Linked DNA regions of Homo sapiens: all the other regions are linked to region 3. Evidence: fine-mapped expression QTL. A gene starts in region 3. Each other region holds a variant in brackets. All regions are shown on one strand. Distances are between the middles of the regions. Region 1 holds the start of FAM237B (family with sequence similarity 237 member B). Region 2 overlaps STEAP2-AS1 (STEAP2 antisense RNA 1). Region 3 holds the start of GTPBP10 (GTP binding protein 10).

What was found. PIP is the estimated chance that this variant, and not a neighbour inherited with it, causes the effect. A credible set is the group of variants that fine-mapping cannot tell apart.
Region 1: its variant is the best candidate, but not a certain one, in a credible set for the expression of GTPBP10 in left ventricle (GTEx, PIP 0.75).
Region 2: its variant is the best candidate, but not a certain one, in a credible set for the expression of GTPBP10 in spleen (GTEx, PIP 0.73).

What each region holds. Positions count from the first base shown.
Region 1 is chr7:90,315,979-90,326,186 of GRCh38, forward strand. FAM237B (family with sequence similarity 237 member B) reads right to left here and starts at 5,326. Exons shown (of 3, transcript NM_001384237.2): 1 at 4,944-5,326; 2 at 4,703-4,749; 3 at 829-3,773. The coding sequence starts at 3,770. The coding sequence ends at 3,351. It also overlaps a transcript of CFAP69 not described here. The variant C/A (reference allele first, on the strand shown) is at 5,739.
Region 2 is chr7:90,133,222-90,143,429 of GRCh38, forward strand. All of the region lies in intron 2 of STEAP2-AS1 (STEAP2 antisense RNA 1), which reads right to left. Among named protein-coding and RNA genes, the nearest start is that of STEAP1, 16 kb to the right of the region's middle. The variant C/G (reference allele first, on the strand shown) is at 4,746.
Region 3 is chr7:90,343,343-90,353,265 of GRCh38, forward strand. It overlaps GTPBP10 (GTP binding protein 10), which reads left to right and starts at 3,374. Exons shown (of 10, transcript NM_033107.4): 1 at 3,374-3,432; 2 at 9,474-9,667. The coding sequence starts at 3,400. All of the region lies in intron 1 of LOC107986715 (a long non-coding RNA gene), which reads right to left. LOC101927446 (a long non-coding RNA gene) reads left to right here. Exons shown (of 6, transcript NR_110085.1): 6 at 1-752. RefSeq lists enhancers at 2,840-2,979, 3,190-3,619.

The DNA of each region.
Region 1 (10,208 bases), 27 kb before region 3:
ACCTACTTGGGAGGCTGAGGCAGGAGAGTCACTTGAACCCGGGAGGCGGAGGCTGCAGTGAGCCAAGATCACGCCATTGCACTCCAGCCTGAGCAACAAGAGCGAAACTCCGTCTCAAAAAAAGAAAAAATAAAGATTCGATAGAAACAGCAGAGGAACTTTAGACATAGATAATTATTATCCCTTGTATCATCTTATGAAGAAATATTTGTGGGGTCAATATTAGATCCTTTGCCACCTTTTTTCTCCTCAGCCTTAAGCTCTCTGAAAAATAATCGGTTATGAGCTAAGCCAAATGAGCTCAGCATAAACCCAAAGCTGTGAAACTGAATCTTTACCATGGTACCACTGCAAGAATTGGTGGTTTGTTTTTTAAAATGATCTCTAGACTGTCAAATGATTTTGAATAGGACAAAAGAGAAATACATATTGTCCCAATTCAGCTTCATTTTGACCACCTTCTTTTTTATCTTCTATTTTGATATCATAAAATTGCTTTTGAATTAGATCTTTCAGTCTATCCCTGCATTGTCCCACTTCAGTGTCAACTCTGTGAGTCAAAGATTACGTCTGGATTGTTCACTAATATACCCTAAAGCTTAATGAATATTTGTTGAATGAATGAATGATGAACAGAAAGAAAAAGTTTTTTTATATGCAGATGACACTATTTGTGCCAAAAACGGGGAGGAATTTACGGTATGTAATCATCATCAAAAAGCTTAAGATGAGTTGTTTTAAAACCAGATTGCCCAGTTTAGCAAATGTTCTTATTTTTAACCCAATGTAGTATGTAAATTCAATTAAAAGAACTAGAAAACCATTTTGCCATTAACTGGAAGACTAATTTTATTGATTTAAGCTAAAATGTTTATCATCGCTGCAATAAAATTGTCATGACAACTATGAGTGATTGAGGACAACTGGTTGAACAATTTTTTAGACTAAAAGTACATGGTCTCACTTTACAGCATTGAACTTTTGAGCTTCAATCATTTGCCCACAGACTGTAAAAGAGAACTGTTTTTTTTGAGGAAAACTGTAATACTGCCTCTAGGTACCACTTCGGCTCCTCTGCAGGAAATGAATTCTAGGTGGATAGCTGTCAGGTCATTTTTTTTTTTTTAGACCAAAAGCAGTTTAATGATAAAGAACACAGATGTTCAATATGGAGATGAGAAAGGACAGGAAAGTTCTTGGCAAGATTAACTCAACTTTTTACTCCTGTCACATAAATGTGACTCCTCTCAAATGAATCATCACTTTTCGATTAGAGCTAAACAGTAATAAAGTGTCAATATGAAAATATGTTGAAATTTAAAAACTCATATCAGACTAATTATTTGTCATATAAATTCCACAAATCAAAAGCTTAATGGACATAAAATCACTCATGTTTACACGCTGTCTGGTCATTTTTATGAGAACATTAATTAGCCCTACCCTCCAACCAGTTGATTTTCTGAGCTTAGGGATCCACCCTTAATTGGCAAGATAAGAAGTTTTCAATCTAGGAAATTATTAGCCCTACAATCTTATATTATCTGCTACTCATGCAAAATTGGTTATATGAAATAATATTGCCGAACGCTATGAGGTCCTTTAATATTGAAAATTCCTAACCTGGGGTTTATGCAGCCCCCTGAAATTACATGCAAAATGTAATTTTAAGAGTGTTTATATATAAAACCCCTAATAAATGGTCTATACATCATCAGAATTTGAAAGTGGTCAATAATGCAAAGAACGTCCCTCCTTTAATTCAGCTTATTCTTGGATCAAGTCAAACCATCAGGCAGTTCGTTACTTGTTCAGTATTATTTTAGCCGATTTTAAAACTTTTTATATTTGAGTTTGAGTGTACTGGAATCAGACTGTAAAGGAGAGAATCTGTCATTGTAAGGATACTTGAAACCAGTGTTGTAAACCATGGTAGCCACTGTGAAAACCTATGGGTGAGATTTTCATTGATTCTTTGTCCTGGAAAAGGCTGGACCTCTGTTGAACATATGGTTTGGTTTTTCTTATAAGCATGTGAATCTTGAAACTGTTCATGTGTCCCTCTTCACTAGGAGAAGTGGGAAACAGACCAAATTTATAGGCACCCTTTATCAAAGGTATAGGCTTTTACGACATGCATTCAAAAAGTATTAATCTAAACCGTAACTCCATTGTATTACTTCCCTGTCTTCATGTCCCAATGTTCCAATTTCCTCCACTACTTCATGTTTTCCTTTTCTTCGGTATATTTCTTTAAAGCTTCACATCCTTTTTGAAATAAGATGTGAGATATAAATAGGCAATATAAAAAATAACTCAGCTAACACAAAAATTCTATCAAATTGTACTTTACTGAAATGAAGTTTCTGTCTTTGTTTATTGTTCCTTTTTCAAAACAAAGACAATAAAAATGAGAACATAAAAAGGTTTTAGTCCTTAATGCATAGAAAAATACTTTAATATAGAAGATGGCTTGGTAATGAAATGTACATTTCAGAAACCACAAAATATACTACATTAAATATTACTTTTTAGGATAATACTGCCATTAGTTTTGGCACAGTTTAATAGTCAATATTAATATATAAGATACCTTATAAAATTGGTTACAATTTTATTCCATTGACTATTGTATCTAAAAAATATATCACATTTGCCTTTTAACTGATGTTTTCTTTAAAACAAAGACACTTTAAAAAGACACCTTCTAAGTAAAAAATTGAGAAATTATCTGAAAATATTGGAATAATTCAATAGCAATAAAGCAATTACAACAAAAAACAACGTTTATCAGTATTAAATAATTTGTATAACTATGACAAGAAATATTTGACCTCATAAATACAAGTTTTCAGGTCGCTGTCATCTTGCTTGAGGTATTTTACATGTTTTCTCTTAAATGTAATACTCTCATTTTGTAAAATCTAGTCCTGTAAGATTTAAAAGAAGAAATTGTTAATATTCATTCCAATATGACTCTTAAATTTCCTGCTTTTATACAACCCTATTGAAAAAATTAATTTCAAAAGCCTAAATACATGTCTGATGTTTAAAATTTCTTCAACAAATGTAATATGAATAATTACAGGGTTAAATGGCTTTCTTATGAACTATTCATGGGCAAACAAGGATAATTTTAATTATCTACCAAAGTGTATTATATTCCAAGATCATTTAAAATTGTAAGTCAGAGCTTGTGTGGTTTGTAAATAATGTAAAATGAGTAAAAATGAGAATCAAAACCTATCATTTTAGGGAAAAAAACTAAATATGGTAAATTTGCTACCTTGTTGGATAACTTGAAAAAAATCAGAAGAATTAAATAGTGACTTTTAAAGAAAAGTAAACTGCTATTCTCTTAAATACACATTTAAATTACCTCCTGTTATTTTCTGTGGAAAATTATATTTGGGGGGCATCACCTGTCTTCTGCCCATTCCATGAGATCTTGAAAGCAAGCAGTCTACATACATGTCCCAGAAATCCTGAGCTATGTTTAAGAAGACATTATAATGTCCAGGCCGCTGAGATTTTTGCAAGAACAACATGAAATTCCAAAAAGCATCCACATTGTGCTCTATCTTGAGTTCCTTGAGATCTATCAATGTCAAAGAGCAAGCTTTCCAGCACTGGAGATCAATGTCTTTGGTGATTCCTGGGCTGATGCTGGCAAGCACTCCTTTTTGAAACTCAAAGTCAGCATTAACCAGATTGATCAGCATCATGCAGCCCAAATGTAGATAGAACCATCTTCTTGTAGCAAAACACATATTCTATACAGAAAAAAAAATGAGAGAGGATATATTTAACTTAAAAAAGTTATTCAATCACTTGATCTAAAAAACTGTAAGTACACATATATTTGCTTTTGATCAAGCCAAATCTGCTTACTAGGTATTCATTTTTTCTAAATTACTGATTATCACATCTTCCTTTAGGATATTACAGTTCCGGTTTGATTTCCAACGTTCTGATCAAGAGTCTTTGAAATGCAACACATTTATGAAAATGCAAAGGTTCATTTCATCACAGACCTTTAAAAGTGGCAGAAACCCTAAAGAGCTTATGCTCCAACCTTCTCCCTTTACTGATTAGATCATTAGTGATACGGTTCCGCAAGTCTTCAGACTCCTGACTGCCTATCCAAGACTCCTACCTACCACAACACATTTCAACTAAGTGGATCAAAATACAGTCCTTTCTACATGTAACATAGGAAGTATTTTGTTGTTGTTAATTGAGATATTATTAACCCAAATGGTACTAGATCTCACAAACACCGTTTAAGTCTCAAAGTTACTGCTATTTCCATTTTCATGTATTGAAAAATACTTGTTACGCACTAATATCCGGTGTATTCTTGGCTTCCCTCTGTTTAGGAGCTGGTTGGAGAAGATGAACGTAGACATACATGAAGTGGCACGAAAACAAAGGTGATATAAGGTAGGATGAGATAGTGCAGGGCCCATTACATTCAGCAAAATCTTGACATTTTTCTAATGCCTCTTTGCATGCCTCCTTGCCAACTGATTGTTGGGTAAAATCGGCCCAAAGCACATAAGAGGAAGTTAAAGACTAAGTTGGCATTGAATTGCCACACACCTGCTATTCAAGGCTGCTGTTGGAAATGTCCCTTTTACAACATTGACAGCCAACGGGGAGGGATAGGGAGAGGAGAACAGATCCAGAACACAGGACTCACCTTTCCCCCCGTACACAGCCGTCTGCCACCTCCCTAAAAAAGTTGGGCTGAAGAGAGAAATCATACGAATCAAATCTAAACAGGACATTCAAGTCATTTCACATCGTCGAAAATTGTGCAAATTCCCCAGACTGAGCTGAAAGCTGGCAGTTTATGATACATGATGTATCAGAGGGAATTTCTTCCCCCTCAATTTCAGGCTAGCGCCTCTCCCTGTGCCCCCAGCCCTGGGTCAGGTCACCTGGGCGCAGAAGAGGGAGGCCACGCGGGAGTCGAGGACCTCTGGTCGCCGTCCGAGGAGCGCGTCCCGGCGCGGTGTCCTGGGTGCGCTACGCTCGTTGGGAGGAGGACGGGGCGCCTCCTGCCCACGAGGAACCAGAGGTTTCAGCGGGGACGACCCCTGCCCAGGGCGCCCTCTGCCCAGCGGACCCACTTCCCGAGGCAGGCGAACTGGGCGAGGCAGCGCTGTGTCACCCACCCCGAGCGCTCACCGGGCGCCCAAGCTCGCTCAGCGGAACCGTCTCGGCCGCGGTGCGCTTCGGCGCTGGGAGGCTCTGGCTGGCACTGGCTCACCGCGGGTGGAGCTGCCGGTTCTGCTGCGGCCACGCGGGGTTCCCGAGACAGACCCGCCGCTGGGACCGCGATCCTTTTCTAGAGGCTGAGTGAGGGGGCAGATCGTGGGTGGCCGCGCTCTCGAGGCCCCTCCCTGACCTCGCCCAACTTCCCAGCCTCCAGACCTCGGGGGCCTCTGCGCCCTGCGGCCCTGCTTTGGCCGCTGCTCTCGCCTCTCCTGCCCTCCTCCGACTTTCTTGCTATGCCAAAGGCTCAGGGTCTTCTTCGCTCTCTCCTTCTTACTTTGTTCCTTCTTTTTTCTTAGCTGAGAAGATCCATCTCGGCATTAGTCAGTCCACATACCCAAGTTATCTTCTCCCTCCGCCCACCCATGCTCCACACCGTATTCTCCTATCCAGAGAAAAATTCTCTTAAGGCTGTGAACTCTCTTAAAATGCTAAACCTCCTTGAACGGTTCTAATCT[C/A]TAGCTAAACACAGTTTATTATTAACGCTAACACATACACACGCGCAAACATACCCTTGCTTCTACACTGGGGGAAATGTTTCCTTTATCCCTTCATGGATGAAGACCCGAGCAAGTACCTTGAATTTCACATATGTATGTTGTCCATCAATCTCAGCCCCAACACATCACTTGGACTATATATGAGTTTAAGTCTACCTGCTCTGCCTATAGCCCAGCAGCGATGATCAGATGGGGCTAGGGAAATCAAAGCCAGCTGCCTTATCCCCATTTCCCCTCAGGCAGGCCACCCTTCTCACAGGTTCTTGAGCTGGGATGGTGAGATCATGGGGTGAGATGAGTGCCAAACCAAACAGCCCAGTTCCCCAGTCATTGTCCCTGCTAAAGCTCACTTCTCCCAGCACCCACCATTATTCAAAGCTCCACCCTGTTCTCATCCTGTTGGTGGAGCTAACGTAGTCAATCATTAGTTCTGCCCTGGCAATGCCTTTTTATGCCCCTTCTATCTGCAGGACCACCTCCTGCACAAAACAGAACTGAGAAAAGGGGAAGACTTGTTTACTCGGATTAGGTAGGATATACACGAATCCATCTCACACCAGATATTCTTCTGCTGTAGACTTCCAAGTGTTTCAGTCCACCATTAATCATGGACTCTCACAATTAGCAGAGATGCAGAGTGACCTAATCCAACATCCCAGCTGAAACGTGAACAAACCACCCTCCCAAGGAATTTGTCCACCCACCAAAGCTGTTTTCCAATGTGACTTAACCTTGGGCACATGTCCCCACCCCCAAAGGAAGCAACCCCTTCCATCTTTGGGTTAATGTTGGCTTCCTTCTAAAATGAATTGGCTCAATTTCTCTGTTGAGTAACCACATAGTTCCTGTCCGTCTTTTTTGAAAGATATACTTTATTTTTCATAAAACATTTTTATCTGTTTACAAGTATTCAAAACCTATTGAAAAGTTGTAAAATACAGAAAAATGTAAGGAGACAGGTAATAGTTGTCATTAAAATGCATTTTTAAAGAATATTCTAATATTAGAATTAGAGTAATGTACTAAATAGGAGTACATATTTGGGTATGATTATTATAACACACACACAGGAATGGTATTCTGAATAGAGAACTTATATAAATCAATAATAGAAAAATAAGGGTAATTGACAGAAGAGTAGACCTTAATATTCAGTAAACATGAGAAAAAATACTGAAATATTCTAAATTTAGATAGACTTAATAACAAAGCCATTTCAAGGAAATGATATATTGTCTTCCCCAAATGAAGCTTAACAAAAATTAATTTGGTAAAATACAATCTCAGCAATTTTTTGAGAAAATGAACACTTCATATGCTTTTGATGAGACTATCAGCTGGTATAATCACCAAGGAAGAAAACTGGCATTATCTGTTTAATCTGAAAGTGATCTAGAAATTTTACTCTTGGTGTCTACCCCCAAGTCAGTGAGAGAAGATATTCTTTATGTGAGTGATTTTTCTGAAGGGTCTACTTGCTACATTCAAATAGAATCTGGCAAAATGATGACAAACATAATTTTTAAATCATCATTGGGTGATCAAGAAAGTGAAATCTCCAGGGAAAAGGCGGATGGAGGCAAAGCATAAAGAATCAGAATATGGAAAAGAAGAAAGAAGAGAAAGAGAGAAGGAAGAGAGGAAAGTGAGATGTAGATAGTAAGTTTAGGCTTTATTAAAACTGGTATCTACAGTAAAAAGTGAGATATAGATATTGAATTTAGACTTTGCAAAGTTGTTAAATATGTATGGTAAAATTTCTCAGGCAATTCCTAAATGACGGAAATAGAGAACAAAACTCTTGAACCAGGGAGAAAAACAGATTGACAAATAAAAAATTAATTGAGAAAGCAAGAAGAGAGAAAAAAGCACAGCAAAAGTGACAAGTAGAAAGTAAATTTATAAGATTCAAGTCAACAATCATAATAATAGTCTGAACTTCTTGATTAAAGGAAGGAAGATGTGGTTGGATTTTAAATTCTGCTATGTGCTTTTACAAAAGATACACACACCCAAAATGAGGACAGAGAAACTTGAAAAGAATGGAAACAAATATACCATGCACATGTTAATTGTATTTTAAACTGACAGCTTTATTAATACAAAAAAGCACGATGAAGGAGAAAGGGGAACACTACATAATGATAAAAGACTCAATTCAGGAAGAAGATAAAAATATTCTAAATTTAGATATACCTAATAACGAAGCTACAGAATACATAAAACAAAAACTGACAGAAGTAGAGGGAAATTTTCACAAACTCACTATCATAGTGGGAGAGTTCCACAAGCCTTTAGGTTAAGATGATAAATAATACTAAATGTGTAGATGATTTGAACCGTCAAGTTATAAGGAACCATGAAACTTGCAGTTAAAGAACACATTCCTCCCATTAGAAAATAAAGCAAGTCTCGGGTGCAGCACACCAACATGGCACATGTATACATATGTAACAAACCTGCATGTTGTGCACATGTACCCTAAAACTTAAAGTATAATAATAATAAAATAAAAGAAAAAATAAAGTCTCATGAAATTTAAAGCAAGTCTCAACAAATTTCAAAAACTAGTATCACTCAAACTTCGTTGCCTGACCACAACACAGAAAGTTTAAAAGTCTAAAAAGTGTTTTAAGAAATATAAAAACAAGAACGTAGTTTTTCATGTTTTGAAATTTAAACAATAAATGTACTTATTTATGCAATAACTTTAAACAATCGATTTTAAAATAAAATACAATGGAAATTATAAAATATTTCAAACTGTGTGATTAAAAAACATTGCATATCAAAACTTGTGAGAAGCCAGTAAGAGGATCCTTTAAAGGAAATTAACAGCTTTAAACACTTGTGCCAAAAGAAGAGAGGCTGAAAATCTGATAGAGTGATAAATGCAACCAAATTTAACAGCTGGTAAAATAGCAGAAAAAAGGCTCTCAAAAGTTAAGAGATTTTACAAAAACACACATTAGTGAACTAAGGCAAAAAGAGTTGATTCTTTGAATAAAATAAAGCAACCTCTGATGAGGCTGATCAAGAAAGAAAATGAAAGGTAGAAAATGATATATATCTATAGATAGCAAATAAAGATTAAAACTAGATACACGAATACTAACAACCAACATATACCATATATTTGAAATTTTAAATTAAATTAATAAATTCCTAGAAAAAATATCTATAAAACTTGGCCAGGCGCAGTGGCTCACGCCTATAATCCTAGCACTTTGGGAGGCTGAGGCAGGTGGATCACCTGAGGTCCAAAGTTCGAGACCAGCCTGGTGAACATGGCGAAAACCCATCTCTACTAAAAATACAAAAATTAGCCAGGCATGGTGGCGCGTGCCTGTAATCCCAACTGCCCAGAAGGCTGCGGCAGGAGAATCGGTGGAAACCAGGAGACGGAGGCTGCAGTGAGCCGAGATCGCACCACTGCACTCTAGCCTGGGCGACAAAGAAAGACTATGGAAAATAAAAAGAAAAAAGAAAAAAATCTATAACAGTCATGTAAGAATAACTACAAAGCCAGAATAGTAAATGCTGTTTAAAGACCTTGAATAAGTAGTTTAAAATCTTCCCACTGGGAAAAAAAAAATCAAGCCCATATGATTTTGCAGGGCAACTTTCAAGGATCAAGTACTTCCTGAAAATTAGAAAAGAAGGAAATCTCCCAGACTCATTCTAACAAAATGAGACAAGGACGATCTGAAAAAGAGTAAAGTCACAGGCCATCTTACTAATGATTACAGATAAAAATAAATTCTAAACAAAATATTGACATACCAAATTCAGTAGGACTTAGAAAAAACCCAGCAGTATCAAGCTTGGATTATCCTAGGGATGCACGGGTAGTTTAACACAGGGGGGCCCAGGCCGTAGATTGGTACCAGTCTGTGGTCTGTTAAGGACCCAGCCGTACAGCAGAAGGTGAGCTGTGGGCCAGCAAGCATTATCACCTGAGCTTTGCCTCCTGTCAGATCAGCAGCAGCATTATTCTCATAGGAGCGTGAACCTTAGTGTGAACTGCACATGCAAGGGATATAGGTTGCTGCTCCTTATGAGAATCTAACGCCTGATGATCTGAAGTGAAAAAGTTTCATCCCAAAACATCCCTCCCTGCCCTCCCCACCCACCCCATCTGTGGAAAACTTGTCCTCCACAAAACTGGTCCCCAGTGCCAAAAAGGTTAGGGACTATTGGTTTAACATATTAAAATCAATGACTATATTTACCATGTACACAAATTAAATGGGAGGCTGGGCACGGTGGCTCATGCCTGTAATCCTAGCACTTTGGGAGGCCAAGGAGGGCAAATTGCTTGAGTTCACGAGTTCGAGACCAGCCTGGGCAACATGGCAAAAACCTGTCTCTACAAAAAAATACAAAAATTAGCCAGGCACAGTGGCACACGCCTATAGTCCCAGCTAC
Region 2 (10,208 bases), 210 kb before region 3:
TGGGAGTTTTACTATTGTGCTGTTTCTCTAATAATAGCTAATTTATATTTTTAATTTTTAAAAGCCATTATGCTGGAAACAGAGCATTCATACAAACAATACACGAATGAATGTAGGTTATACTGCAAAATAGCTGGTTACTATAATGTAGTTGTATTCCATGGCTTTAAGTTTAAAAATAACTTCGCATTTACTAGAGTGGACTTACCCTCCAGGCATAAAATTTTAAAACCCAACAACTCCAGGCCTCCAGAGTCTTTACTTCCCACTAACTTCTCACCAGTGAAGGCGAAGCTAATGAAAAAGGATAGATGACTGCTTCTCAATTGGAAATGGATCCAAATGCCATCAAGGGAATTGGTGTCGGTATACAGATTTTACCTACTGTCACAGCCTGGTTGGGTGGAGGATGGGGAAGGTGGTGGTATCGGTCTACTTTTAGAGTTTTAAATGTTTCTCTGAATTCCTGTAGCAGACAATTTTGAGAAAATTTTGCCTAGAGAAAGAGTCTGAAACCAAAAAGCTAAGCAGAGGCAAAGGTTTGCAGCTTGGATCTTTAACATTAATAAGTCTGTTGCTTTTTCCTACCTCCCACTCCTGCTACCTGAAGAAGGTGAGTAGGAGGGGAGGGATGGTGAAAGAGGAGGGATATGGAGGGAAAAGGACATAAGTGGTGGTTGGGTAGATGACAGATAGTGGTTGTCTGCCTGCCGCCCATCTAGGTATGCCCCCACGGGTGGCCTCTGCTTTTGCCCACAGGGGACTCATTCACGCACAAAGGAAGGTGACAGACAATTGGCCAGAACATAGAGCACTGAAATGAAACACAAAGGCCACTCTTGGGCCTCTGTGTTTCATCACAATTATATTAGTTTGCTAGGGCGCCATCACCAAGTACCACAGACAGGTGTCGGAGATCAAGGTATCTATCAGCAGGGTTAGTTTCTTCTGGGATCTTTCCTCTTGATTTGCAGATAAGCGTTTTCTCCCTGTGTCTTCACATGATGTTTCCTCTATGCCTGTTGTATCCTAACCTCCTTTTCATATAAATTCACAATTGAGCACATAACTCCTATTTAATACCATATGTTGGAATAAAAAGCCTTATAGCAATGCATAGGATAGAAATTCTTTTCTTTAAAACTTAGAGTATTTTGCAGTAATGAAAAATGGTCCTGACATACAGAATGCCATCTAGCTTACACCTGCATGGGGCATGCACGGCATGAGGCATGAAGAAGAAAGAGATGAGCAATCCTTACCTGAAAAGAGACCACCCTCTCCTTTAATGGGAGGAGAAATTAAAGAATAATTTAATGGGAGGGGAAATTAAAGAAAAATGCCCATAGTTTGCTGCAAACACTATTGCTCAATTTAATACTGTAATGGAATCTACAATGTGTGTACAATCATTGTTAACTATACCTTTATTATCTTTATAATGTTGAGGTAAAGAGCTTTCTGCTATTATGCATTAATAACTCCATCCCTAATGCCATCATGGTTCTAGTGTCCAGGGAAGGAGTCTGTATTAGTCTGTTTTCACACTGATATAAAGAATACCACCAGAGACTGGGTAATTTATAAAGAAAGGAGGTTTAATTGACTCACAGTTCTGCATGGCTGGGGGGGGCCTCAGGAAATTCACAATTATGGTGGAAGACAAGGCACATCTTACATAGCAGCAGGTGAGACAGAGAGAGAGAGAGAGAGAGAGAGAACAAACCAGGAAGTGCCACACTTTAAAACCATCAGCTCTCATGAGAACTCACTCACTATCGTGAGAACAGCATGGGGGAAACCACCTCCATGATCCAATCACTTCCCACCAGGTTCCTCCCTTGACACCTGAGGATTACAATTTGAAATGAGATTTTGGTGGGGACACAGAGACAAACCATATTATTTCACCCCTGGCCCCTCCAAAATTTCATGTCCCTTTCAAGTTTCAAAACCAACCATTCCTTCCCAACAGTCTTAAAGTCTTAACTCATTCCAGTATCAACCTGAAAGTCCAAGTCCAGAGTCTCATCTAAGACAAGGCAAGTTCCTTCTACCTATGAGTCTGTAAAATAAAAAGCAAGTTAGTTACTTCCAAGATACAATAGGGGGCCAGGTGCAGTGGCTCACACCTGTAATCCCAGCACTTTGGGAGGCTAAGGCAGGTGGATCACCTGAGGTCAGGAGTTCAAGACTAGCCTACCCAACATGGTGAAACCCCATCTCTACTAAAGATACAAAAATTAGCTGGGTGTGGTGGCTGGCGCTTATAGTCCCAGCTACTTAGGAGGCTGAGGCAGGAGAACTGCTTGAATGTGGGAGTTAGAGGTTGCAGTGAACCGAGATCGCACCAGTGCACTCCAGCCTGGGTGACAGAGGGAGACTCCATCTCCAAAAGAAAAAAAAAAGATACAGTAGCAATACAGGCATTGGGTAAGTATTCCCATCCAAATAGGAGAAATTGGCCAAAACAAAGGGCCCACAGGCCACATGAAAATCTAAAACCCAGCCGGGCAGTCATTAAATCTTAAAGCTCCAAAATGATCTCCTTTGACTCCATGTCTCACACCCAGGGCATGCTGATGCAAGGCGTGGGTTCCCATGGCCTTGGGCAGCTCCACCCCTGTGGCTTAGCAGGGTACAGCCCCTCCAGCTGCTTTCATGGGATGGCAATGAATGTCTGTGGCTTTTTCAGGTGCAAGGTGCAAGCTGTTGGTGGATCTACCTTTCTGGGGTCTGGAGGATGGTAGCCCTTTTCTCACAGCTCCACAAGGCAGTACCTCAGTGGAGACTCTGTATGGGCACTCCAACCCCACATTTCCCTTCTGCACTGCCTAACAGAGGTTCTCAATAAGGGCTCCACCCCTCTTGCAGACTTCTGCCTGGACATCCAGGCTTTTCCACACATTCTCTGAAATCCAGATGGAGGTTCTGAAAGCTCAACTCTTGTATTCTGAATACTCACAGGCCAAACATCATGTGGAAGCTGCCAAGGTTTTGGGGCTTGCATTCTCTGAAGCAATGGTCTGAGCTGTACCTTGGCCCCTCTTAGCCACAGCTGGAGCTGGAGTGGCTGGGATGCAGGACACCATGTCCCAAGGCTGCACAGAGCAGCAGGGCCCAGGGCCCTGAGGACATTTTCCCTCTTAGGCCTTTGGGCCTGTGATGGGAGGGGCTACTTTGAAGATCTCTGAAAGGCCCTGGAGACATTTCCCCCATTGTCTTGGTGATTAACATTTGGCTCCTTGTTACTTATGCAAATTTCTGCAGCTGGCTTGAATTTCTTCCCAGAAAAATTTCTACCACATAGTCAGGCTGTACATTTTCCAAATCTTTATGCTCTGCTTCCCTTTTAAATATAAGTTCCAATTTCAAACCATCTCTTTGTGAGCGCATGTAACTGAACGCTTTCAGAATCAACCAGATTACCTCTTGAATGCTTTGCTGCTTAGAAATTTCTTCTGCCAGATACCCTAAATCATCTCTCTTAAGTTCAAAGTTCCACAGATCTCCGGAGCAGGTGAAAAATGCTGCCAGTCTCTTTGCTAAAGCATAGTAAGAGTGACCTTTACTCCAGCTCCCAATAGGTTCCTCATTTACATCTGAGACCATCTCAGCCTGGACTTCATTGTCTATATCACTATTAGCATTTTGGTCAAAACAATTCAACAAGTCTCTAGGAAGTTCCAAACTTTCATTTATCCTCTTGTCTTCATCTGAGCCTTCCAAACTGTTCCAACCTCTGCCTGTTATCCAGTTCCAAAGTTGCTTCCACATTCTCAAGTTATCTTTATAGCAGTACCACACTACCTTGGTACCAATTCTCTGTATTAGTCCGTTTTCACACTGCTATGAAGAATACCACCAGAGACTGAGTATTTATAAAGAAAGGAGGTTTAATTGACTCATAGTTCTGCATGGCTGGGGAGGCCTCAGGAAACTTACAATCATGGTAGAAGGTGAAGGGGAAGCAAGGCACATCTTACATGCGGCAGGCAACAGAGAGAGAGAGAGAGACTGCAAGAGAGAGAGAGAGAGAGAGACAGAAAGCAAGAGAGCGAGAGCGAGCATCAGGAAGTACCACACTTTAAAACCATCAGCTCTTGTGACAACTATCATGAGAATAGCATGGGGGAACCACCCCCAAGATCCAATCACCTCCCACCAGGTTCTTCCCTTGGCACCTGAGGATTACAATGCAAGATGAGATTTCAGTGGGGACACAAAGTCAAACCATATCAGAGTCTTCCTCTTAAAATTCATGGAAAGGTCATATCTATCTAATCTCTCTCTGATGCTTCTTTTGGCAGTATCACTAAAGACATTTCCATCCCAGAGAGTAGATGTGGAGGATGTCAGATTCAGAGAGAAAAAATTATTTGTCATTGGTTACAACCACAAAACCATTTACTATAGTTTTAATATTGTGAATATCTGTTCTGATCCCAACAGATCATCAGTCAAGTAGAGAAAAATAGAACAAACTATTTCTAGAGTGTCTAAAGGATTCATTCTATCATTTTAGTAGATGATATACATGACCATCAACATTCAGTCATTTCATGAATAAGACAAGACATTATAATTTACCTTAGAGTGAAGCTGTTCTCATAGAATTTACATTGTGCAATTTTGCTTTTTCACATGAATAAATTAGGGGCTCAGGAAGCAGAAGGACAAATAAGGCAGAGAACAAGCAGGAAAAATAATTGAGGTAGGACCAGTAATCCATGGAGGATCCCCAA[C/G]TTCAGGTGAAAGCATAGAATATATCTGAATGTGAGAGTTGAGCCAAAGATAGACTCATTTATCCATGGACTAATGGATAGTCAAATACTAGTAAAAATAATAATAATAGCCATCATTTACAGGCTTACTCTTTGCTAGACTCTTTATATATTATATAATTTAATCTTTAGGACATCTTAGTAAAACTGTTCTGCAGATGAGAAAATTGGGTCTCAGAGATGTCAAGTGCCTTTCTTAAGGCCCTCCAACTAGACAGGGGCAAAGCTTTTAATTAGATTTGGGCCTGTCTAATCCATTGATACAATCAAACAAAACCACTGTGCCCTGGATGGAAGTCATTAATTTAAGGGCAAGTAGAACTGGACACCTAGAAACTAAGAGATCCAGGAGTTCTCATTGTATATTTGGGACTAGGTGGTAGAGGACATGAAGAACAAGGAATAGCTGGCTGGGAATGAAAGCACTGACCCTCCTGCAAGAGAAAAGTAAGACAGAAACCATGTAGTTGAAGAACCCAGATTCCAAAGGTTATCTCAAGCATTGTTTCAAAAATTGTTGACGAAGCAAATTACTCAGCTCTTCTCATCCAAAACCTTCTCGGCTTGGCGTAGACCTGGAATCCAGGGCAGGACTGAACCTCAGGGATGGGGACCAGTGTCCACCAGTGCACACGGTGGAGAGGGGAAGGGAAGAAAGCCAAAAGGCCATTAATTAAACCCAGGGACTCCTGGCTCCCAGCAGGATCCTATTCTTTCTCTTCCCACAGTAAGAAGCTAGTGGGGAGATACAGACACCAGGTGAATCCCTCAGCTGACTAGTCAGCTGTAGGATAACTGGGAAAGTGAGAGGATCCTGCGTCCTCTTGAGGAAGTGCAGCTTTCTGCTGTCCAGGCTCTGGAGTCCCTGCTAGATTTGCTCACACACAGGACTTGCACTGGGCAGAAGTCTGTGGCACATGCCTTCAAAGCATTCCATTAGCTGGAATTTAAAATTCTCTGACGGAAATCAGAATCCTGTCTGAAGGCAATTTTGCAACAGTGTGAGATGTGCATGAGGCTCCTGAAGGCCATGGAGCTGTTCCAGGCAATTCGATGAATGGAGTGTTCAGCCGGTCAGGGCAGGCACCCAATTTAAAACATGCAGGTGAATAACTGATGGGACCTCTTGCTCAAACATCTCGAATGCATTTTGCCAGGCTCTCCAAGTGTGTAAAAGTCTTGGAAAATAACATGAAATTGCCTTGACTGCACTCATAAAATGGCTGGATGTAAATGTCCTTTAAAAATAAAAATAAAAAAAACTAAAGAGCATTTTTAAGGCTTTTGCTTCACAATAGGATGAAAATGATTTGAGGTGGGAGCACAATGATGTCAGCGAAGTGTGGCTCAGCCACGCTTTTGGTAGTTAATGCAGTCAGAGACACGGAGGAAGTCAGAAAACCTATTCTAAAATGATGTCTTAATGCAAAAAGAAAAAGCAGTGATGTGTAAATAGATACTGAGTTGTGTATTCTATTATGCAGTTGAAGGAAATTGAGATCAGAACTGCCATTCTAAGAAAGAGTTGACACAGATTCTCCATTTCAGTTTCTTTGAGGTGCTTAATAATCTGAGGTTGAATACAAAGACACCTGACTTTCCCGTGCCTTGATTTACCTATCTCTGAAGCAGAGAAGACACAGTGTGGCCACTCCATGATACTCTTGTGTGTAGTGTTTACCTTTCTCAGGCATGAGAAGGCTGCAATTACAAGATGGTTCTCAGAGATATGTGGGGTATTTTTATCATACTTGTTTAAGACGAGAAAAATGTTATCCCTCATTCCAAGAATATGAAATTCAATTTTAAGCAAGTTCACAAATTTAAAAAAAATTATTATGTTCCTTCTATGTGCCAGAATTTGTGCTAGGAACTCAGAAGGCAGAGAACATTCTCTGTCCTTAAGGAACCTCAAGGAGGAGACAGACATATAAACCAGCAATTACACTAAGTATTGCAGATATAGGTGGCAGTACTAGTACATGTTTCCAGAGTGTGAACATAAAAATGGGATACCGGATCAATATGATTTGTGTGAGGTTGAAGCTACCAATATGCAAATGAGTCCCAAGTAGATGCCAGAAAATGCTTACCTAACAAAGCTGTTCCCACCTCTCCCAGTGAAAACAGAAGTCAGCCCACAATGTCTCTAAAATTCCCACTATCCAGCATTCTTAAAAGCCCTCCTAAAGAGGGTAGGATAGGAGATGCGAGTTGTACATGGAATTCAATAATTATTAGATGTTAAATATTACTGAGACCGCCATTGCCGGCCAAGATAAAGTCAGCCCTCTATAGTCTGTCTCTCTCACAGATTACAGCTAAAAATGAATACAGAAAGTAACTATTTAAGGACTCTGAAAAGTAAACACCAGAAGATAGTTTGAAAGTCAAAATTTGAAGAAAAACCAGTATTAGGATGAGAATCCTGAGTTATTTTTGCTTTTGTATCTCACTGCTTTGAAATGAAAATGGCCCTAATTATGGAACTGAGCAGTAGGAGCAGACATCAAAACTCAGAGAAATCTCCTTTGTTGAACCAAACAGATACAGAGACCTCTGTAAGCTGAAAAGTGTAGAATATATTCCAAGGCTTTTTTTTTTTCTGTTTTTCCCCTCTTTTTTCCTCCTATCTCTAAGCGAGGAGTGGCCACAGTCTAGAGCTTCTCTGCAGCAGTTGTGGCATGTGCACCTAAAACACTGAGAAAGCAAACAAACAAACCACTGTCTCTCTGGTCAGAGGATCTTCAAAAGAGTTCCCTATCATCCCAAGTGGATGGGGGAAAATTTTTGTTTTCGTTCTCTTTGTCTCTCCAGTTGTGTGGAACTGCATATCAGGGTGGTCATTATGGAAAATCAATATTCTCTAGAGGATTTTAACAGGACTCAGAGTCTCACAACATAATATCAGATTGTCTAAAATACAATCTGAAACTACTTAACATACAAAGAACCAGGAAAATGTGACCAATAGTCAAGGGAAAAACCACTAACAGGTGCCAACCCACTCCAAAACAGCAAAACTCATTCTTTTCAAGTACCTATAAAGGACACATTCTGAACCATTAAATAAACCTTAACAATTTTAAAATAATTGAAATCATACCAAATATGTTGACAATAATATGTATGACCATACATGGTTAAAGAAAAAAATAAAAAATCAAGGATATCTAGAAAATACCTAAACATTTGGAAGTTAAACAACGCAGTGTAACTGTGTTAAACAACACAGTTCTAAATAACCCATTGGTCAAGTAAGTTTCAAGGGAAATAATAAAATATTTTAAAATAATTAATAATAAAAATACAATTTATAAAAAATTGTGGAAGTGCTTAGAGAGAAGAAAATTATAGTACTAAATGCTCATATTAGAAAAGAAAGTCTCAAATCAATAACTTAAGCTTCCACAGTGAGACATTAGAAAAAAAGAACAAACAGCTGAGCAGGGTGGTTCACCCCTGTAATCCCAGAACTTTGGGAGGCCGAGGCGGGTGGATCACCTGAGGTCAGGAGTTTGAGACCAGCCAGGCCAACATGGTGAAACCCCTTCTCTACTAAAAATACAAAAAATTAGCTGGGTGTGATGGCAGGCACCTGTAATCCCAGCTACTCGGGAGGCTGAGGCAGAAGAATCTATTGAACCCGGGAGGCGGAGATTGCAGTGAGCCAAGATTGTGCTATTGCACTCCAGCTTAGAGGCTAAGAATGAAACTCCATAAAACAAACAAACAACAAAAAAAAAACAAACAAAGATAAAAAGAACAAACTAAACCCAAAGCAAGCAGAGAAAATGAATTAACAAAAATAAAAACAAAAGTCAATGAAAATGAAAGCAGAAAAACAGTAGACAAAGCCAATGAAATATCAATAAAATGCATAAATCTCTAGCTATACTAAGCAAGAAGGAGAGAGAGAGAGAAGACAAAAGCTATCAATATCAGGAATGGAAGAGTGGATATCACTACAGAAAAACAAATGACTGTATTACCACAAATTTGTGTTTAAATCAGGGTTAAATCAGGAATTAAATGGACTAATTCCTTGAAACATACAAACTACCAAAGCTTGGTGAAGAAATTAGATAACTTGATTTGTCTCATATCTATTACAGAAATTGAATTTGTAGTTAAAATACTTCAAAAAAGAAAACTCCACGTCCAGATGGTTTTACTGAGTTATTCTCCCAAACATTTAAGGAAGAAGTAACAAATCTATATAATCTTTTCTCAGAAATAGAAAAGAAGGAAATACTTCACAACCCATTTTATTAGGCTAGAATTAGACCAGCATTAAAACCAGACCAATATCCCTTATGAACATAGGTGAAATAATTCTGAACAAAATTTTAGTGAATCTATTCCAGCAATATTTACAAAGGATAATGTAACATGACTAAGCAGGATTTGTCTTGGGAATGTAAGGCTGGTTCAACATTTGAAAGTCAATCAGTATAATTAACTATATTAATAGGTTAAGAAGGAAAACCATGATTGCTTCAATAGATACAGAAAACGCATTTGAAATTTTCAATATCTATTCATGATACAAATTCTCAGCAAACTAATAATGGAAGGAAATTTTTTTAAAACTGATAAAGCGCATGTAGAAAAAACTGTATAGTTGATTTCACACTTAATGGGAAAAGACTGCTTTCCCCTAAAATAGGAAACAAGAGAAAGACTTTTGCTCTTACCACTTTTTTACAACATTGTTCTGGAAGGCCTAGCCAGTGCAATAAGGCCAGAAAAAGAAATAAAAGGCATTATGTAGAAAATTCCAAGGAATCTCTAAGAAAGCTCTAGAGCTCATAATCATAATTGACTAAAAAGATCAATATATAAAAATTAATTTTGGCCAGGCATGGTGGTTCACACCTATAATCCCATCACTTTGAGAGGCTGAGGCAGGCAGATCACTTGAGGTCAGGAGTTCGAGACCAGTCAGGCTAACATTGTGAAACCCCATCTCTACTAAAAATAGAAAAACTTAGCCAGGTGTGCTGGCACACACCTGTAATCCCAGATACTCGGGAGGCTGAGGCACGAGAATCACTTGAACCCAGGAGGCAAAGGTTGCAGTGAGCCAAGATCATGCCACTGCACTCCAGCCTGGGCAACAGAACAAGACTCTTATCTCAAAAAAAAAAAAAAACAAAAAAAACAAAACAAATGTATTTCTATATACTACCAATAAATAATTTATATTGAAATTTTACATTATGCCATTTATAATAGTGCCATAAAATAAAATATTAAGAGTAAATGTAATATCAGCAGGATCTATATGTTATAAACCCTGATTTAAAAAAAAATCCCAAAGAAAGGCCAAATAAATGGGAAGATATACTGTGTTTATGGGATATTCATAAGATGTCAATTCTCCCCAAATTTATCTATAGGTTCAATGCAATTATAATCAAA
Region 3 (9,923 bases):
TTGTTTGATCCATTTAACTTCATCATTTGGGAGATATAATGGTTCTCAGACTTGTAATATTTTGACGGCATGAAACAAATAATATTTGATTTGTTACATCTGAAGGATTATAAGGCTAATGAGTAAGAATAACTCGATGCTCCACTTCAGGTGATTCGTATGCTATAGGAGTTAGCAATCTAGTTCTTGTCTTTCGTTTGAATAAATTAACAAATATTCCTAGAGTATCTACTGATTACAAGGCCTGAGCCAGACGGACCTTGTTAGGGACTCTTGAACAAGCAGAACTAAAAGCATGATAGACAAAAGGTAGAAATCTAATTAAAAGCAGTTGAGATGATGACACAAGATCAATTGAAATAATCTGCAAAGCCCAGAATGAAGTTAGACACTTTTCATTTTAGTCTGCTGACAAAATTAAGCAATATAACATCACAAAATATTAGATTTGTTAATTATATATTTGTCTATTTTATGCTTAAGTGTATCTACATTAAATGTTAGATTAAATGCAATGTGGTGTTAGTATTAGACCCTGGAGTAAAGTCATAGGTGAAAAACCAGTGAAAGCAAATAGTCTGTAGTTTAGTTAATATTCTAGCAATATTAATTTTTTTAGTTTTGAAAAATGGTTATAAAAGATGTTAACATTCGGGCAAACTGGATAAAGATTACATGGAATCTCTTTTGGCTATTTTTGTAACTTCTGTAAATTAAAAAGTACTTCAAAATAAAATTATTTAAAATTGTAATTAGAACAACTCTATATTAAATTTTTTCATAACCCTCATTATTGTGTGTGTGTGTGTATATATGTATATATGTATATATGTGTATATATGTATATATGTATATATGTGTATATATGTATATATGTATATATGTGTATATATGCATATATATGTATATATGTGTATATATGTATATATGTATATATGTATATGTATGTATATATGTATGTGTGTATATATATGGTTTTGTTTTGTTTTTTTTTTTTTTTTTTTTGAGACAGAGTCTCTCTCTGTCGCCCAGGCTGAAGTGTAGTGGCGCTATCTCGGCTCACTGCAAGCTCCGCCTCCCAGGTTCACGCCATTCTCCTGCCTCAGCCTCCTGAGTAGCTGGGACTACAGGCGCCCACTATCACGCCCGGCTAATTTTTTGTATTTTTAGTAGAGACGAGGTTTCACCGTGTTAGCCAGGATGGTCTCCATCTCCTGACCTCGTGATCCACCCGCCTCGGCCTCCCAAAATGCTGGGATTACAGGCGTGAGCCACTGCGCCTGGCCTGTTTTAAAATATTTTTAAAACCAAATTGTGAGTCATGTCGATGGCTTATTTGGGACTTTATTCAAGACTCTTTAGTGCCACTGACTTTAATGGTTTGCCCATACATCAAACTGAGCAACCCTAAGGAGGCATTCTTTCCTCTTCATGGCAGAAGTAGTAGTATTTTCCAACAATGACTTCTGCCTTAGGTCTGAATAGTGTCCTAAACATTTTGCCTCATGTTCATTTTAGCTGCACATTTTAAAGGGGACAGTTTCCAGTTACACAATGTTTCTTTTACTATCTGGTAATGAGAGTTATAATAAATACTTCAGGCCCTGACCACATTTTGTCAGAGGTAAATATTATGCTTTCTTTTTTGTTTACAGTACACAATGATCCTCATCATTTTGAGATATTTCTATATCAATCTCCCATTTTTTTTTTTTTAGTTGCTGTGATCATTTCCCCATGTATATGTTATGTGAAAGAAAAGTATTTGAGATTGTGTTCACTAACAAGAAATAGGCATTGGAAAATAAGTACATTGGGCTCAACACTATTCTGACACAATAGGAAAACCTAGTAAGATAGTAATCTTAATGGCAGCAAATGTCATTAAATTAAAAACATCTACACAGCAACAACCTAATGTTCATATTAATGAGAGGTAGGAACACTGATAGTAATCAACATCTGTTGCTGGTGTTAATATTCAACATTAAAGTAATCCACAGAGGGAAAATACAACTACTGCAGGTTAAATGACAACTACAGCTTTTCTGATTGGTGGTTGTAAGCAGAAGGTCCAGTAGCAGCAAAGTAATCAAGACGGGGTTTTCACATCATGTCTTTCCAAATAATCACTGTCCTAAGTGAGGAGTAGAAGACACTGTCACATTGAGGTATTAGTCAGTTTTCACAGTGCCATAAAGAACTGCGCAGACTGGGTAATTTATAAAGGAAAGAGGCTTAATTGATTCACAGTTCTACATGGCTGGGGAGGCCTTAGAAAACTTATAATCATGGCAAAAGGGGAAGCGGAAACAAGCACCTTCTTCACATGGCAAGCAGGAGAGAGAAGAAAGAAGGAGGAACTTCCAAACACTTATAAAACCGTCAGCTCTTGTGGGAACTCCCTATCAGGAGAGCGGCAGGAGAGAAACAGCCCTGCATGATCCAATCACTTCCCTACTTCCACAATGGGGATTACAAATGAAGATGAGATTTGGGTGGCGACACAGAGCCATATCGTATCAAAGTATGAAAGGTTTCTAGGATTTATTAGTTTGGGTTGTTAAGAGTTATACGGCTGGCAACGCTGTGCAGGGCCGTTTACTTCAGCTGCATACATTTTTTCGCTGCATGAGGGGTTGGGGAGAGCTACTCTCTTCTGGTCCTGAAAAGTAATCAAGAGAGAGAGGGATTTTTCACATCGTGTCTTAATTCTCACAAAGGCACGCTTCAAATGACGGATAAAAACCCGTCTTCCCGACTCCAAGAAGCTACTTTCTGACAGTTGTAAACAAGCTTCTTTCTCTTACTGCACAGGAGAGTCCTCTTACAGATCTCAGATCCTGACATTATTTTCAATAAAACTTTGTGCGGCCGCTAGTTTTAAATTCATGGTCTCCTGGAAGCTTTGGCTGGAGACTACTCAGCTCGTCACTGAACTAACGGCTTTTGGGGGTTCTTTTTTCCCAGTTGAGTTTCTGTGTCTTTTACACGTTTGGTTTTATGGTCCGTTGGAGGTTTTTTCACGCTGAGGGTGAAGATTCTTAGTTTCCTCAATTAGCATAAAAGCTGCTCCAAGGCTGCTGAGTCTTCAGTTCCATTCCATTCAAAATGTTAATTCCTGAGACACGCAACCTACGCCCTACTGTCCTTTGTCCCACGGCTTCTCGAGATTATCTCTGTGTTTTAATAGATAAAACGCCTTCTCTCCCCACCCGTGGGGTGCAAAGCACAGCGCATGGGGCTGGTGGCGCCCGAGAGCATCACACAACGCATGCGCCAGTCCGCAGGTGTGGGCGGAGGAGAAATCGCGTCGGCGGCAGGGGATGACGTAAAAAGGCCGCGCTGTACTGCGGCTTGTGCCGCTTCCGCAAGAAGGTTTCCTGGCCTGTTGCAGCCATGGTGCATTGCAGTTGCGTGTTGTTCAGAAAGGTCCGTGCGGGTCCCCTCAGCCTGGTCCCCTTAGCGCTGACAGCTCTGGTTCTTCTTTGCTCCCCTGTCTCTCCACTACTGTCTTCGTGGCGGCCTTTTCCTTGCTTGGTTTTCCCATAGACTTCTCCGCCCCTCCTGTAGTGGCGCTTTGTCAGTAAGCGGTGACAGTGGTGTGTGTACCTGGCGTGGTTTGGACGGTTGTTTGGGGGCAGGGGCAGGGTTTGAAGTTCTTTAGAGACATAGTGTGCACGTGGTATGAGGAACTGGGATACCTGCCTGCTGTGGCCCAAATGTTGTGGTGGTTTTTTTTCCTTTAATGTCCACAGCCTGTTTTTATATATTTCTCCTTGAGTGCGCTGTTTAAGGTTTTTCTAATGGATTTTTATGAAGACACGAAAGCGTGTAATTGATGTGCCTTCCTGCAGAACATTTAGGTCGATTTTTGTGTGGTGTCGGTCTTAAGAATCGTTTCCGTAAAAATTTACAACTGCTTTGAATTTTTATTTTTTAAATCTTATCCTATCAGTAATGCTTTTTGAAACGTTGCCTGCGTCATATTTGGCCATTACTTTATTTCTAACGACCAGAGTAAAATACTCCTTTTAAGTAAGGCTCCTAAACCCCTGAATCTGATTAATCTAGAGCAGGAAAAAAGTGTTACATATTTAATGGAACTGTAGAAACTCTCCTCGAGTATATCAGAATGGTCAATATTTCAACTTTCTTGAAAAAAAAATCCCATTTGTTTTTTATAATAGCTATCCTAAATGACTAGAGATGTGGATTATGAATTTAAGAAATTACTCCTTAAGTTATTTTGATTTTAATAGCCTAAGAGGTTAATACGTAAGTCCTTTACCTACAAGAAGTTCTTGATTTAGTGAAGGAAACAGGTAAACACTAAATGCAGCGTGAGATTTATAAAGGTGTAATAATAGAGATATAATCAAATTGCTGGGAGAGCCAGCAAAGTCAGAGAATTGATTAGAGGAATTTGGAAAGACGTTAGAAAATATGACGTTTAGGTGGATTTATGATAGGAAAAACAAATGACATTCTAAGTAGAGGAAAAGCATGAGCAGAATGGCATGTAGAAATGGCGGTATTTCATGTAGTACAGAGCAAAGAGGAAGAGAGGAAGGGTTGAGCAAGTGAAAAGGATACAGGAAGGAACTAGGCATGGTAGGTGAGCCTATTGTTCTTGCTACTTGGGAGGCTGAGGTGGGAGGATCCCTTAAGGCCAGGAGTTCAAGACCAGTCTGGGCAACATAGCAAGACCCCATCTTTAAAACAGTCGGGGTGGTGTGGTGCCTGTAGTCCCAGCCATTTGGGAGGCTGAAGTGGGAGAATTGCTTGAGCCCAGGAGTTTGAGGCTGCAGCAATGATAGTGCTATGATAGTGCCACGGCACTCGAGCCCAGGCACCAGAACCAGACCCTGTTTCAAAAAAAAGAAAATAAAAGATACCAGAAGGGTATTTTAGTAGCTTTGGATATACAGTTGACCCTTCAAGAACATGGGGGTTAGAGATGCCCCCGCCACAGCTGAAAATCTTCATGTAACTTTCAACTCCCCCCACAAAACAACTACTAATAATCTGTTGGCTGGAAGCCTCACTGATAACATAAGCCGTCAGTTGACACATATAAAATATATATATAGTATATACTGTATTCTTAAATTAAGCTAGAGAAAAGAAACAGTTACTAAGAAAGTCAGAAAGAAGGGAAAATATATTTACTGTTCATTAAATGGAAGTGAATTGTAAAGGTCTTCATCCTTATAGTCTTCATGTTGAATAGACTGAGGAGGAAGAGGAGGAGTTGGTCTTGCTCTCTTGGGTGGCAGAGGCAGAAGGGGTGGGGGTGGAGGAGGTGGAAGGGGAGGCAAGAGAGGCAGACACACTATGTGTAACTTTATGGAAGTACATCATAATTTCTGTCATGCTTTTGCTTTTCTCTTTCCCCCAAAAAAATGTTTCTATAGGGTACCAATACCTCTTCCACCATTTGCTTTGGTTTCAGTGCCTCTTCACAGAAGGGTCCATGTCATAAAAGAAGTCAAAAGCAGTCCTGAACAATAGGAGCTCTTCTGCCAGATTATCTAATGTTCGTTTTTCTGGTAGTTTATTCTGTGTTTTCTTCCTTGTTATCTGGCACTGGATCTGAAGCACTCATCAAGCTGTCTTCTGTTAATTCCTCTGGTTTGGTGGCTGTTAGCTCTTGAGTTTCTTCAAGATCCATATCTTGAAGTCCTTTACCCACTTTCCCGCCGTTTTTGGCATATTCACAGCCTCTTTCATGATTTCCTTGATTGGCTCTTTTGTAAATCCTGTGAAATTATAACACAACACAACACCTGGACAAAGTTTTCTCCAGCACGAACTTACTGTTTGGGGCTTATGGCTTTCATGGCTTTTTCAATAATAATGGCATCTTCAATTATGTAAACTTCAGATTTTCCTGAAGTTTTCTCTATTAGTGTTCTTTTCCATGGTTGACAATCCTTTTCGTAGAAAATCATGTTTAATGAGCCTTAAAGGTCCTTGCGACCCCGTGATCTAGAGGCTGATTTACAGACATTGTGTTTGGGGGCAAGGACACCACTTCAGTGCCTTTGATGTTGAACTCATGGGGTTCTGGGTAGCGGGGAGGTGGGGCACTGTCCATTAGCAGAGGAACTTTACAAGTCAGTCTCGTATTGGGAAGGTACTTCCTGACTTCAGGGAGAAAGCATCCATGGAACCAATCCAGAGAAAAGGTTTTTGTTCTCTAGGCCTTCTTATCCAACAAAGACTGGCAGCTGATGTTTATCTTTCCCTTTCAAGATTGAGGGGTTAGCAGCTTTATAGATAAGGACAGTCCTGATTACAAACACAACTGCATTTGCACAATACAGTAGGGTTAGCCTATCCCTTCCTGGCTTAAATCCTGGTGCTCCCTTCTCTTCCTTACTAATGTCTTTTGTAGCATGTTTTCCAGAATAGGGTACTTTCATCAGCATTAACAACCTGATTTGGGAGATATTCTTTCGTCTCAGTGATTTTCTTAATGGCATCTGGGAACTCATCTGCTGCCTCTTAGTTGGCAGAACCTGCTTCACCTGTTATCTTGATATTTCTAAAGCCAAAGCCAAACCTATTTCTTCTTTTTTTTTTTTAAATTATACTTTAAGTTCTAGGGTACATGTACACAGCGTGCAGGTTTGTTACATAGGTATACATGTGCCATGTTGGTTTGCTGCACCCATTAACTTGTCATTTACATTGGGTATTTCTCCTAATGTTATCTCTCACCCAGCCCCCAACCCCATGACAGGTCCCAGTGTGTGATGTTCCCCCCGTGTCCCAAGTGTTCTCATTGTTCAGTTCCCACCTATGAGTGAGAACATGTGGTGTTTGGTTTTCTGTCCTTGTGATAGTTTGGTCAGAATGATGGTTTCCAGCTGCATCCATGTCACTCATCCTTTTTATGGCTGCATAGTATTCCATCGTGTATATGTGCCACATTTTCTTAATCCAGTCTATCATTGATGGACATTTGGGTTGGTTCCAAGTCTTTGCTGTTGTGAATAGTGCCACAATAAACATACGTGTGCATGTGTCTTTATAGTGGCATGATTTTTAATCCTTTGGGTATATATCCAGTAATGGGATGGCTGGGTCAAATGGTATTTCTAGTTCTAGATTCTTGAGGAATCTAGAACTGTCTTCCACAGTCAAACCTCCTTCTAAAATTATCAAATCATCCTTTGCTGGCAATTAATTCTTTAGCTTTAGATCCTTCACATTCCTTTTGCTTTTAAGTTGTCATATGGTAACCTTACTTTTTCTTTTATTGTATTAGTCTATGTTTTTAAAATAGGAATCCTGCATCTACATAAAAGTTGCCTTTTTAATACAAGATAAAAAGTTAATTCACAAAAAGTGCAAGGTTTTCACACCTTTTGGCATAGCTGCTGCAGTGGCTTCATGAATTTTTGTCTTTTTTTACACTGATTCTTATTCTGGATTCATTTATCTTGAGATAGCAGGCCATCGCAGCTACAGATTTTAATCTGTGGTAGATATCAAGCAATTCATCTTTTTATCGTAGTGTCATGACTTTACTTCTTGGGAGCACTGCCAGCATCACTAGTGGCACTTTGTATGGGTTCCATGGTGGTGTTCAAGGTTTACAGTGTAGCGCTGAACATGATGAAAAATGCAAGAGAACTGTGAGAGATTACTTTTTACTGACTTATAAAATGTACTGGCAAGATGAACTGCTCATGGGGAGACGATTAGCATCACATGGCCTTTTAAGTGGCAACTTGGGACACTTGAGATCCCGGGATAGTTACAGGAGGTAACTACGAAATTATTACAGTATTCCACGATGTACTACAGTTAATTTTATGCAGTTATGATTTAATACTGCATTTTTACATTTGCTTACATTTCTCTTGACTGCAAATGCTGCCATGTAAGATCTGTAAGTGTGTGTGTAAGTTTTGATAAATTTTAAGTTTTTATAATAGATGTGTGGCCAGGTGCAGTAGCTCATGCCTGTAATTCCAGCACTTTGGGAGGCCAAGGCAAGAGGATTGTTTGTGGCCAGGAGTTTGAGACCAGCCTGGGCAACATAGCAAAACCCCATCTCTAGTTTTTAAAAATTAAGATAGATATGTGTATATTTTATGGAAGTAAATGACAAAATAGATTAGCATCTATATATTTTTTGCACTCATAACACACAGCTTTTCTTAATTTTTTCAATATTTCCAATCTATTTGCTTTGTAAGTTTTTTCAAATTGTTGCAAAGCTCAAAAAATTTTTCTAATATATTTATTGAAAAATATCTGTATATAAGTGGACACACGCAGCTCAAACCAGTGTTGTTCAAGGGTCAACTGTAGTACTAAGAATTTTTTACTTTATTTCATAAGCATTTTTTTTTTTGAGACGGAGTCTCGCTCTGTCGCCCAGGCTAGAGTGCAGTGGCTTGATCTCGGCCCACTGCAAGCTCTGCCTCCCAGGTTCATGCCATTCTCCTGCCTCAGCCTGCAGAGTAGCTGGGACTACAGGCGCCCGCCACCACGCCTGGCTAGTTTTTTTGTATTTTTAGTAGAGACAGGGTTTCTCCATGTTAGCCAGGATGGTCTCGATCTCCTGAACTCGTGATCCGCCCACCTTGGCCTCCCAGAGTGCTGGGATTACAGGCATGAGCCACTGCACTTGGCTCATAAGCATTTTTTTAATGCATGGTTTTTGAGTAAAGGAGAAACATGATTAGAGATCAGATCAATTTCAGAAAAATAGTTCAGGCAACAAGTTGGAGAATGCAATAAGGAAAAAATGCCTAAACACTGAAAGGAGCTCATGTGGTGCAGGTACTAGGGCAGTGGTACTGGAGAGAAGAGAGTAGGGCTTTGGGAAAAGAAGCAGGTGTAGTCTGAAAGACTTCCATTTGTGTAGTCTCAATGAATATGTAAACCATGGTTCTGTTACTTTAGAGAACATTGGAGGAACAGATTTTACCTGGGGAAGAGTTTGGTTTTGTTATGTTAACATTTATTTTTGAGGTGGCTATTATTCAACTGATATGTAAGAACAAGTTTCATATTGGGGAATTTCAAATATAAGTTAAATACACATTCTGCTCACATTTGCTTTATACTATTAAAAGCTTTCATCCTGGTGGAAATGTCTGACAGATTGGACATAGAAAATATCTCACCTAGGTGATGGTTATTGGTACAAGCAGAAATTACCCAGGGGAGAAAGTCTAGAATGAAAACAGGGCCAAGTCAGAAACCCTCAGGATAGGTGGGACAATAATTGATAACTGAAAAAACTAAAAGGGACTTAAGAGAGATAATCAAATGGGAAAGGGGGTCAGATCGGAGATGTGGAGGTGAGCTAAGAAAATGTTATAGAATTGGCATGTGAAAAGCTATTAACGACTTTTTTAGAAGAAGTTTTAGTGGAAGAAAGAACTAGAAAAAGGTTCTAAGGTGATACACTTTTGGTATACAAATATTCTTTCTCTTTTTTTTTTAAGTATGGAAATTTCATCGATAAGCTAAGACTCTTCACCAGGGGAGGATCCGGTGGAATGGGTTATCCTCGTTTAGGTGGAGAAGGTGGAAAAGGTGGTGATGTCTGGGTTGTAGCCCAGAACAGAATGACTTTAAAACAACTTAAAGACAGGTATCCTCGGAAACGGTTTGTGGCTGGAGTAGGAGCAAACAGCAAGTAAGTAATTACTGAATGACTTAAATTTTAGAAAATCAAACCCTTCTGGAAATTTTTTTTTTAGTTACAAAATAAAAACTTAATTGTTAATTTGAAGTAAATTATTTCCTGTATTTATAACCAAGCAAAAGCCTAAAATGTCTCAACTCATAAAAGACTGATACTAAAGAATATTTCAGAGTTTTAAAACTTTCTGTCCGTTTCTTTTCCCAATGTCTATCTGTATTCTTTTTGCACTTCCCCTGTAGAAACCGAT